Linked DNA regions of Homo sapiens. The protein of the gene in region 1 purifies or fractionates together with the protein of each later gene. This does not show direct contact. Each region holds a gene or a part of one and is shown in the gene's direction. Other genes may lie near its edges.

The links. Proteins that work in one complex are often made in the same cells at the same time.
Region 2: the proteins of LSS (region 1) and RAB12 purify together in Homo sapiens (affinity purification with mass spectrometry; one large-scale study listed by BioGRID and IntAct). This does not show direct contact.
Region 3: the proteins of LSS (region 1) and HMGCS1 purify together in Homo sapiens (affinity purification with mass spectrometry; one large-scale study listed by BioGRID and IntAct). This does not show direct contact.

Annotation. Positions count from the first base shown.
Region 1 is NC_000021.9:46,222,275-46,225,774, reverse strand, and holds part of LSS (lanosterol synthase), read left to right. Parts: intron 1-3,036; coding exon 3,037-3,145; intron 3,146-3,500. UniProt on the Homo sapiens protein: Key enzyme in the cholesterol biosynthesis pathway. Catalyzes the cyclization of (S)-2,3 oxidosqualene to lanosterol, a reaction that forms the sterol nucleus.
Region 2 is NC_000018.10:8,633,437-8,636,659, forward strand, and holds part of RAB12 (ras-related protein Rab-12), read left to right. Parts: intron 1-2,096; coding exon 2,097-2,186; intron 2,187-2,225; exon of another isoform or gene 2,226-2,363; intron 2,364-2,752; exon of another isoform or gene 2,753-2,816; coding exon 2,817-2,921; intron 2,922-3,223. UniProt on the Homo sapiens protein: The small GTPases Rab are key regulators of intracellular membrane trafficking, from the formation of transport vesicles to their fusion with membranes.
Region 3 is NC_000005.10:43,306,913-43,310,412, reverse strand, and holds part of HMGCS1 (hydroxymethylglutaryl-CoA synthase, cytoplasmic), read left to right. Parts: intron 1-2,568; exon of another isoform or gene 2,569-2,588; 5' UTR 2,589-2,647; intron 2,648-3,500. UniProt on the Homo sapiens protein: Catalyzes the condensation of acetyl-CoA with acetoacetyl-CoA to form HMG-CoA, which is converted by HMG-CoA reductase (HMGCR) into mevalonate, a precursor for cholesterol synthesis.

The DNA of each region.
Region 1 (3,500 bases):
GTCCACTGGACAGTGGGCTCTTCCCTGCCTGGCAGCCGAGGCAGAGAGTGGGAGAGAGAGAGAGAGAGACAGCTTATGCCATTATTTCTGCATATCAGAGACTTTTAGTACTTTCACTAATTTTGCTACTGTTATCTAAAAGGCAGAGCCAGGTGTACAGGGTGGAACATGAAAGTGGACTAGGAGCGTGACCACTGAAGCACAGCATCACAGGGAGATGGTTAGGCCTCCGGATAACTGCGGGTGGGCCTGACTGATGTCAGGCCGTCCACAAGAGGTGGAGGAGTAGAGTCTTCTCTAAACTCCCCCGGGGAAAGGGAGATTCCCTTTCCCGGTATGCTAAGTAGCGGGTGTTTTTCCTTGACACTGACGCTACCGCTAGACCACGGTTGGGTCCGCTTGGCAACGGGCCTCTTCCCAGATGCTGGCGTTACCGCTAGACCAAGGAGCCCTCTAGTGGCCTTGTCCGGGCTTAACAGAAGGCTCTCACTCTTGTCTTCTGGTCACTTCTCACTATGTCTCTTCAGCTCCTATCTCTGTATGGCCTGGTTTTTCCTAGGTTATGATTGTAGAGCGAGGATTATTATAATATTGGAATAAAGAGTAATTGCTACAAACTAATGATTAATGATATTCATATATAATCATATGTATGATCTAGATCTAGTATAACTCTTGTTGTTTTATATATTTTATTATACTGGAACAGCTCGTGCCCTCGGTCTCTTGCCTTGGCACCAAGGTGGCTTGCCACCCACAGCCTCTCGAGTAGCTGGGATTACAGCCATGTGCCACCATGCCTGGCTAATTTTTGTATTTTTGGTAGAGACAGGTTTTCACCTTGTTGGTCAGGCTGGTCTCGAACTCCTGACCTCGTGATCCCCCACCCCCCACCCCCAGCCTCCCAAAGTGCTGGGATTACAGGCGTGAGCCACTGCACCTGGCTGAGTTGGAGCTTTTCTTCCCTCTTTTTGGACTTTGGAAAATGCTCTTGGTCCATGATGCTATGTAGACAGCTCCCATTGACTGTGGCCTGTGCGGCATTGGGCAGCACTCTGGTGAACACTGAATCGGGTCTGACCTCCTAGCCCCACCATTTACTGGCTGAGCCTCAGTTTCCTTGCCTGTAAAATCAGGAAGATGCTGGCTCTGCTCCTCTCTGCACATTTCCCCGTCCTAACAACATTATAACTGTTAGGAAAGAGACGGGCTTGTTTTGGGATGGCTCATTTTATGTGACCCTGTGCGCTGTCTCTGAGTTCATCTGCCCTTCTTCCAGGGTGTAGGGACCAGCCCCACAGGGTCGGTGGGTCTCTCCCTGTGTGCGGCGATGAGAGAGTGTAGAAATAAAGACGCAAGACAAAGAGATAAAAGACAGCTGGGCCCGGGGGACCACTGCCACCAATGCACGGAGACCAGTAGTGGCCCCGAATGTCTGGCTGTGCTGTTATTTATTGGATACAAAGCAAAAGGGGCAGGGTAAAGAGTGTGAGTCATCTCCAGTGATAGGTAAGGTCACGTGGGTCACGTGTCCACTGGACAGGGGGCCCTTCCCTGCCTGGCAGCCGAGGCAGAGAGAGGAGACACAGAGAAAGACAACTTATGCCATTATTTCTGCATATCAGAGACTTTTAGTACTTTCACTAATTGACTACTGCTATCTAGAAGGCAGAGCCAGGTGTACAGGATGGAACATGAAGGCGGACTAGGAGCGTGACCACTGAAGCACAGCATCACAGGGAGACAGGCCTCCGGATAACTGCGGGCAGGTCTGACTAATGTGAGGCCCTCCACAAGAGGTGGAGGAGCAGAGTCTTCTCTAAATTCCCCCGGGGAAAGGGAGCCTCCCTTTCCCGGTCTGCTAAGTAGCGGGTGTTGTTCCTTGACACTTTTCGCTACCGCTAGACCACCGTCCGCTCGGCAACGGGCGTCTTCCCAGACGCTGGCGTTACCACTAGACCAAGGAGCCCTTTTGCTGGCCCCGTCCGGGCATAACAGAAGGCTCGCACTCCTGTCTTCTGGTCACACCTCACTATGTCCCCTCAGCTCCTATCTCTGTATGGCCTGGTTTTTCCTAGGTTATGATTGTAGAGCGAGGATTATTATAATATTGGGATAAAGAGTAATTACTACAAACTAATGATTAATGATATTCATATATCTCTAAGATCTATATCTGGTATAACTATTCTTGTTTTATATTTTATTATACTGGAACAGCTCGTGTCCTCGGTCTCTTGCCTTGGCGCCTGGGTGGCTTGCCGCCCACACAGGGCATGTCTGGATGGTTTGAACACTAGGGCTTCTGATGCTCTAAGCCAGAGTCAGGTATTCATTCCATGGCACATGTGGCTGGGGTCTGCCCTGAGACCTGTCCCGTGCCAGGCTCTGGGGGCACATGGCTGATGGAACCAAGCATGGGGAGTGAAGGTGGAGGGTGGCCTGTGAGCACCATGCCTGAGAGGACCAGGCTGGGGACGGAAGGTTCTTAGTGGATAATATTTATTGTCTCTGCCTCCCCCCTGACATTTGCAAAGCGGCATATGCTTGTAAAAAAATTTTGAAACAGAAAAATATAAATAAATAAGTAGGTATTACCACATGCAAGGGTGACCAATTTTGTATTTTTCTTCCCAGCAGATGTTAAAGCAAGACCAACAGTCTCCCCTCATGGAAGGCCCACTGATCTAAAATGCTGGTTCCTTTTGGACCTTCAGGGCACTTGGGGGAGACCTTCCTGAGGTGCTGTGCAGTGTCTGGTGTTTCTCAGACCCTGGTGGTCATGGGAGCCAGGCGTGGCTGAGTGGGCTCTACAGGCCCTAGGCAGGGAGCATCGCCTGTGCTGTGGCTGACGTTCCTTCTGGCCCTGTTCCCAAAGTTCCCCATGGGGGCCTGGGAGGAATGGCCTTTCCAGGGGGTGTTTTTATGAGAAGGAGGTAGCTCCCTGTTGGAGTGAGGTGCTCAGGAGGAAAGGGGCCTGGTCTTAGCAGTCATGACCACCTGTCCCCAGTGAGGAACATCTCTCCTGCCACACAGGCCTCCTGATCACTTGCCACGTGGCACGCATCCCTCTGCCAGCCGGATACAGAGAAGAGATTGTGCGGTACCTGCGGTCAGTGCAGCTCCCTGACGGTGGCTGGGGCCTGTGAGTGTGCCTGCCCCTGTGTCACTGCACATGTGCATGTGTGTGTTCTCATGATGTAGGAGATGCTTGGGTTTCCAGGCAGCTGCCAGGGGTTAGGAGTGATTGCAGCTGTGGGTGTGGGGTGGGTGAGGGAGAGACTAGCAGGCGGGGAGTGGGCTGAAGGCCATGCAGGTGGGGCCTCGGCTTCACATCTTTTGTTAAATGGATTTTGTGGCTGTTAGGACACTCTTGAGACCCACATGTGAAAACTGTCAGTCTGTTATCACTTAAGGCAGAAGAAAATTGCCCTTGACTCTGGGCTGGCAGCAGGTGGAGACAAGGCCTGACAGCTTTCCTGCCATGTGGCACACACTTT
Region 2 (3,223 bases), on another chromosome or scaffold:
AACATCATTTAGCCCATATATAGCCTTCGGGATAGGGATGTAGTCCTGTATTGTGGATGAGGCAAAGAAGAATTAAATTTATCCAGAATCAGGATTTTTCGTCTGGTATCCTGGACTGTCTCAACTACAGAGGCCAAACATGCTCATTCCACTACATCCAGCTGCTTTCATGGAATAGATATAAGACATTTCATTTCTGCGGAAAGGTCACCTGGACACTCATCTCATGCACGTCCACTGAGTGACAACCTTGAGGAGATGGCCTTCTCCACGGTGCCTGCGGATGTCCCACGCGCCTCCGTCACCCACTGGACATCTGTCCTCGCAATTATAGATGCCCTTTAGCTCCTCATTTTGAGCAAGAGGAGCTCGAGTTCTCCTTTGGCTCGTGATGGAATCATACAGATAGGCTGTGTCCCTGTGGTTAATGTGAACCGTGGGTTCTCCGCTAAGAAACATGTTCCCAAATACACATTTAGAAGGCAGAGCAGTTGGGAGTGGGATGTGATGATATACCATTGACCACATTTTGAGTTTTCTTCCCCTCGTGCAGTAGTTTCATGTTTAGTTCCTTTGCATAACAAGCATATGCAATATAAATTGGATTTTATCTACACATTGCATTTAAACCTGTCTGCTAGATAACATTGGAGAATGTTTGCCAGCTTTACCAAGCATGTCATTGATGATGTATGCCTCTTTAAAATGTGTTAGGATTGGTGGCCAGGCATGGTGACTCACACCTGTAATCCCAGCACTTTGGAAGGCCAAAGCAAGAGGATCACTTGAACCCAGGAGGTCGAGACCAGCCTGGGCAACATAGTGGGACTCCATCTCTCTCTCTCTCTTTTTTTTTTTTTTTTTTTTCATTAAAAAAAAAAGTTGTTAGGATCAGGGTTGCAAGGTTGGATCAGACCTGAGGCGGGGCCCCTGCCCCAGCCTGCTCTGCACTGGGCATCAGTCATACCAGGCCCTCCATTGGCACATCAGTGGATACTGATGTTCCCTGATACGGAAGTCACAGAGTGCAATCCTGTGGAAATTAGAAGTGGACAGTCCTCATAGTCTAAAACTTTTAGAACTAATAGGATGAATACAAAACCAAAAGAAATGGCCTAAATCCTACCCCATTTGGTACTTGAGTTTGTGAGTCTGTGCCCACCCAGGTCTTGAGGTCTGATGCTGTCTTCCTTTTGTCATCAACTGCTGCTTTTCACCTTACTTGAGTGAGAGCATCATTTCCTGAGTGCGGGGCCCATTGCCCCAGCCCTGCGGTGGGTGCTGTCACTGTTACCCACACCTCCCTGATAAGGGGCCGGCACTCCTCACCTGGCTGCGTAACTGGCCCACGGCCACACCATTCAGGTTCCTTTTGTTGCAGTCTGTTTCAAGTAACTTTTTAGAACGACAAGTTAGTTGCTCAAGAGATTTTAACCTCATTTTTAAAGACAGAAATCTCATTGTACCTATATGTATTTTTAAACTTAGAAATGTAGCTTAACTTTTTTCCTGGTTATAAAATTAATGATACCTTCATTATAGAAATTTGGAAAATGAAGAAAAGCACAAAAGTAAAGAAGAAATCTGTACCTCTGGCATCCTGAAAAACCAAATTGGCTTCACTGTATTTAGCTTTACGTCTTGCTTATTTTGTGAATATTCTGTCATGGAGTCCTTCCTGTGTCATTCTCTGTTCTTCTGAAGCGTGTGTTTTTTTAAATGCCTGTGTTTTTAAAATAACTTGATTCTTGAGCCATTTTGTTTGACTTGTAGGTTTTTCAGTTGATAACCATTTTGAGTGTAGAGCTTTGCCTGTATGTTGAATCATTTCCTTAGGAAGAGGTCTTGGGAATTGTTGGGTCAACAGCCAAGAGCATTGTGGTTCTTAATGCCTGTGCCCTAGTTCTTTCTAAGACACAGTGAGCCCTGCCTTGCACTGCTGCCCAGTCCTGCCTGGGAACTGGTAGAACCTCAAAGACAGTGGAAGTGAATGGACAAATGTAAATTAGCGAAAAATACTGTATCGGTTTATATTTCTGCTGTCAGTATATGGCGATGCCCATCTTTGAAATGTGGCTTCTTTTAAAATTCCACAGTATGCTTCAGAAGATGCAGAGCTTCTCTTAGTTGGAAATAAGTTGGACTGTGAAACGGACAGAGAAATCACCAGGCAGCAGGGGGAAAAGGTGAGAGGGCGTGGGAGGCACGGTTGCCACACACTGTGCTTAGCGCTTGAGGTACTGTTTCTTTTAATAAATTACTTATTTTAAAAATTACAAAGAAATTATCAATACAGTGATAACTCAGTCACATCCTCCTAATTTGTTTGCACTTTTTTGACTTCGTGCTCCTTTAAATTCATTCTGAAATGGAGGGAGAAAAAAACACATCAGTGTATACAACATTATTATCTAACCTGACATTTTATACAGAGAAACATATTTTAAGCCATAAAGTTGCTTTTATAATTTACTTTAACGTACTTTAAACTTCCTTGGTTTTTGCTAAGGATTGAATCATGGAGAAACGATGCTATTCACATTTAAATGTCAGATATGTTACACTTTTAGAAACTTAGGCAACTGATTTGACTGGAAGGTCCCGGCATCACCTTCAGGATTTTTATTGTCTTTTGTTTTGCTAGTTGCTTATAATGTAAGAATTTGCTACACTTGTGAACTTTATCTTTGAGCGTCAGTGGGACTTTCTACCCCTTAATCCCAGCCCTTCCCTTGAAGCTGAGCCCAGAGACCTCATGCTCGCACGCTGGTCTGTGAGGCCCCACACAGAGGAAATAGGTGTGTGTTTCTTCTCAGTTTGCACAGCAGATCACTGGGATGCGGTTCTGTGAAGCAAGTGCCAAGGATAACTTCAATGTGGACGAGATATTTTTGAAACTTGTCGATGACATTCTGAAAAAGGTAAAAAAAAGAATCTACATTATAAAAGTATATCATCTGAAACCTGTTGTTTCCTTTATTGCTTTTTTATTGAGAATTTTGTATTTAGAAACCAAAATACAGTAGTTGTGCTCAGGCGCAAGAACCAGGTATGGTTGTTAACTCAGCCACAGGCACCCGGCCTGCTGTAGCCGTTTCCCACCCAGGGGCTTCTGGTGTCCTTGGGGTTGGTATATGGCATACTTGCTTCGCCTTAAGATACAGCAGGGTAGACTTAACAGGGTGTAGCAATATGCTGTGTTTATTTGACATTTGCTTGTTTT
Region 3 (3,500 bases), on another chromosome or scaffold:
ATAACTAGTTTTCCATAGAGAGTAGGCTATGTAGACTTGGGTATGAATGACCTACCTCTGTAGAAGTGCAGGTCCCTGATTAGAAAACTTATTTTCTGTGTGATTTATCGAGGAAAGCTTCCAGGAAGAGGTGACTTAGAACAGGGCCTTGAAGATGAGTAGAATCTCTGATACGCAGACCAGTAACTCTGGGAGGAGGCAGGGATGTCCATGCTTTTTACTTGGAGAACTATACCAGAGTGTACAGGTTTGAGCAAGTCTTTCTTAACATTAGTTTTTACTTGCTTGCTCCTAAGGAGGAAAGGTTGCCAACTTGTTCTTAATTTCCTAGATTTATCTCCTGTAACAATGAGAAAGATCAATAGGTAACTGTTTATATTTTATAGTTTACATACCAAAATGTGTAGGCAATGAACTTCTCCAACCACTTCTTTGAATCAAGGCTAAGGAGGGAGCCAGAAGGAAGTATTCAGAACACTGAGTAAACTCCAGAAGAAACTACCATTGCATAAATCTGGTTGGCCCTAGGCAGTCTTATCATTCTTGTGTTTTAGTCTTTGCCAGACTCAAAGTGCCTATATTTCATCCCATGAGTCTGCAAACCTGCTTTGTGGTAACCTGCCTGGCTACTTGCCATTCATTAACTGCTTCTTGACCCATGTTGATTCCCTCTGTCACTTACTCTGAAAAGACCTGTTAGAAATAAGCTTGTGATCTGCTTGAGACTTTGGCAATACTGGTTTAGCCAGAATAGAGAAATCCTTAAGTAGCACAGCAATCCTTTCTGAATCTTCTATTTGTTTCTTCTTTGTTCTCTGTGTCTCTCCCACCTAACATCCCTCTCCAATTTAAGTAATCAAAATAGAAAGAGGGGCCCAGGCAAGGTGGCCCACGCCTATAATCCCAGCACTTTGGGAGGCCAAAGTGGGTGGATTGGTTTAGCCCAGGAGTTGGAGAACAGCCTGGGAAAGATGGCAAAACCCCATCTCTACAAAAAATACAAAAATCAGCTGTGTATTGTGGCATGTGCCTGTAGTCCCAGCTACTTGCGGGGTCTGAGACAGGAGGATCACTTGAGCCTGGGAGGTCGAGGTTACAGTGAGCAGTGACTGGAATGCTACTGCATTCCAGTCTGGGTGACAGAGGGAGACCCTGTCTCAAAAAAAAAAAAAAATTTGAGGGAATATAGGCAGTGCAAGGAAAGGCAGAATATAGGCAGTTCAAGGAAAATTTCCTTGATACAAGTAGTGTCAAATGCATATACATACATGAACATCAAGAAGAAATATTATTATTTAAGTAGTCTTAACATGGAGAAGGAATCTTGTTTTTCAAGAACTGGTCTCTGTGGTCTGCTTAATTTGCAGAAGACAAAGGCATAATTTGAGATAATAAAGAACAAAGATAGGTTATTTTCTCAAAGTATGTATAATTACAGTTAATTAGAGACATTTTTGGAATATTGTAGTATTCTTTGCCTACAAAACTCAAGATCTATTTCTTTTTATGGGGCAGGGGGGCGTAGGTGGGTAGTAAACTTAGTTAATGAAGTAAAAGGCGCTACGACTGAAGAGCTCTTAAATTATGTAATTATGTAAAAAAAGTAAAGCTTTATTAAATATTAATAACATCCGAATGTAGTTACCAGTGAATCCATTAAGGGCAGATGCTAAATTTGCCAGTAATTAAATAGAGAGCAGAGGAAATGGTGTATGCTGTGTTAAACATAGAAGTTGCCATCTCAAGTAACAATCAGTCTTTCAAAACAGATGGACTGAAGAATATGTTCCAGTCACCTTCGCAAATTATTTCTACTTAATTTACATAATAATGTTTAATGCTCCTTTGTCTAAATGCTTAATTTTTTAACATAAGCAGTAAGAGGGAAAATCACTTTATAAAAGGTTGGGAGGGTGAAGGTGGCAGTGTTGAAAATGATTAGGTCTTGCTAGAAAAAATACCTTTATTTTCTTTGAAAAACACTTATAAGAACTATAAGAACTAAGGTAATAGTCAGTGTATTGGTGCTTTGTGTTACAAAGTGTCTTCACATATTTTATCATCTCAGCAATCCTTCACAATGATCTGGGGAGGGCAACTGTATTAGCTTCATTTTATAGATGAGGAAACTGAGGTCCAGAATTGCTGCCAAAGCCACAATCTGTTACATGCAGTGCAGGCTCTTGACTGCATATATCTCTTTACTCTAGAAATTTGCTAACTCATTACAACTTGTTTATATTCCTTTCCCCCAATTCTTGAAAACCTTGGTTTAAAGCCTCAATTGGTGACATGGGCTTCTTATTTCCTTGAGGTTTTTTTGTTTATTCCTTCCTGCAATAGTAGGCTTCTTATATCCGTTTATTACCAGGACTGAACCTTTCACTATAAGGGCTATGAAAATAAGGGGGAAAATGTTCTATAAGCTTTAAGTATGATTTTTTCTAAGCAAATGTCAAATTCTATTCTGCATAATGTAATTGGATAAGGAATTGCTTATTTTAACTCACTTTGAATTGGATTCATTAGTATTTGAATTTGGGTAGTGATTTATAACTTTAAAAGCAGTTCTTGTTTGAAATTCCTAGTGCCCGAAGGAGGAAACAGTGACAGACCTGGAGACTGCAGTTCTCTATCCTTCACACAGGTATGACATCCTGTCATGCTGCTTAAGGAAAGTATTCCTCTCTAATGGAAGGAGGAAACTTGGTATCCTAGAGAAAATAACGATTTGTTTGTGCCATATGTTCTTAAAACCCCTTTTAGGGTTCTACCTCATCTTTAAAATTCTGTTAATGCTTTAATGCTTCAGGAAACTAATTTTATGTTTATTAGACTAATGTTTAAAATCTAGAAACAAATTTTAAAAATTAGTGTTCACTCATAAGAGAAAAAGTACTTATAATAAAATGTAATTACATGGACTACTTAATCAGAAACAATCAGAGGTAAACATGACTGCCATTAGTGCTTTTTAAATTATGGCCTCAAAAGATATGTATCTGGGCTGTGGATGAATGTTTAAAATTATGTAAGAATGGGCCAGGCACAGTGGCTCACGTCTGTAATCCCACCACTTTGGGAGGCTGTGGCGGGTGGATCACCTGAGGTCAGGAATTTGAGACCAGCCTGGCCAACATGGTAAAACCCAGTCTCTACTAAAAATACAAAAAAATTAGCCAGGCTTGGTGGCAGGTGCCTGTAAGTCAAGCAGCTCAGGAGGCTGAGGCAAGAGAATCGCTTGAACCCAGAAGTCGGAGGTTGCAGTGAGCTGAGATTGCGCCACTGCACTCCAGCCTGGGCAACAGAGTGGGACTCTGTCTCAAAAAAAAAAAAAAAAAAAAATTATGTGAGAATGGACAGTAATTTCAAATGTGTTTCAACTGGTAATCTAATTATTTGCAGCCATTGCTTTCTCATATTGTCAGGGAGTGCTTCTCTTACAATTCTGCTTTTTTTGTATTTCAAGATTATGATTTCCTATGGGTGTTAATGACTTT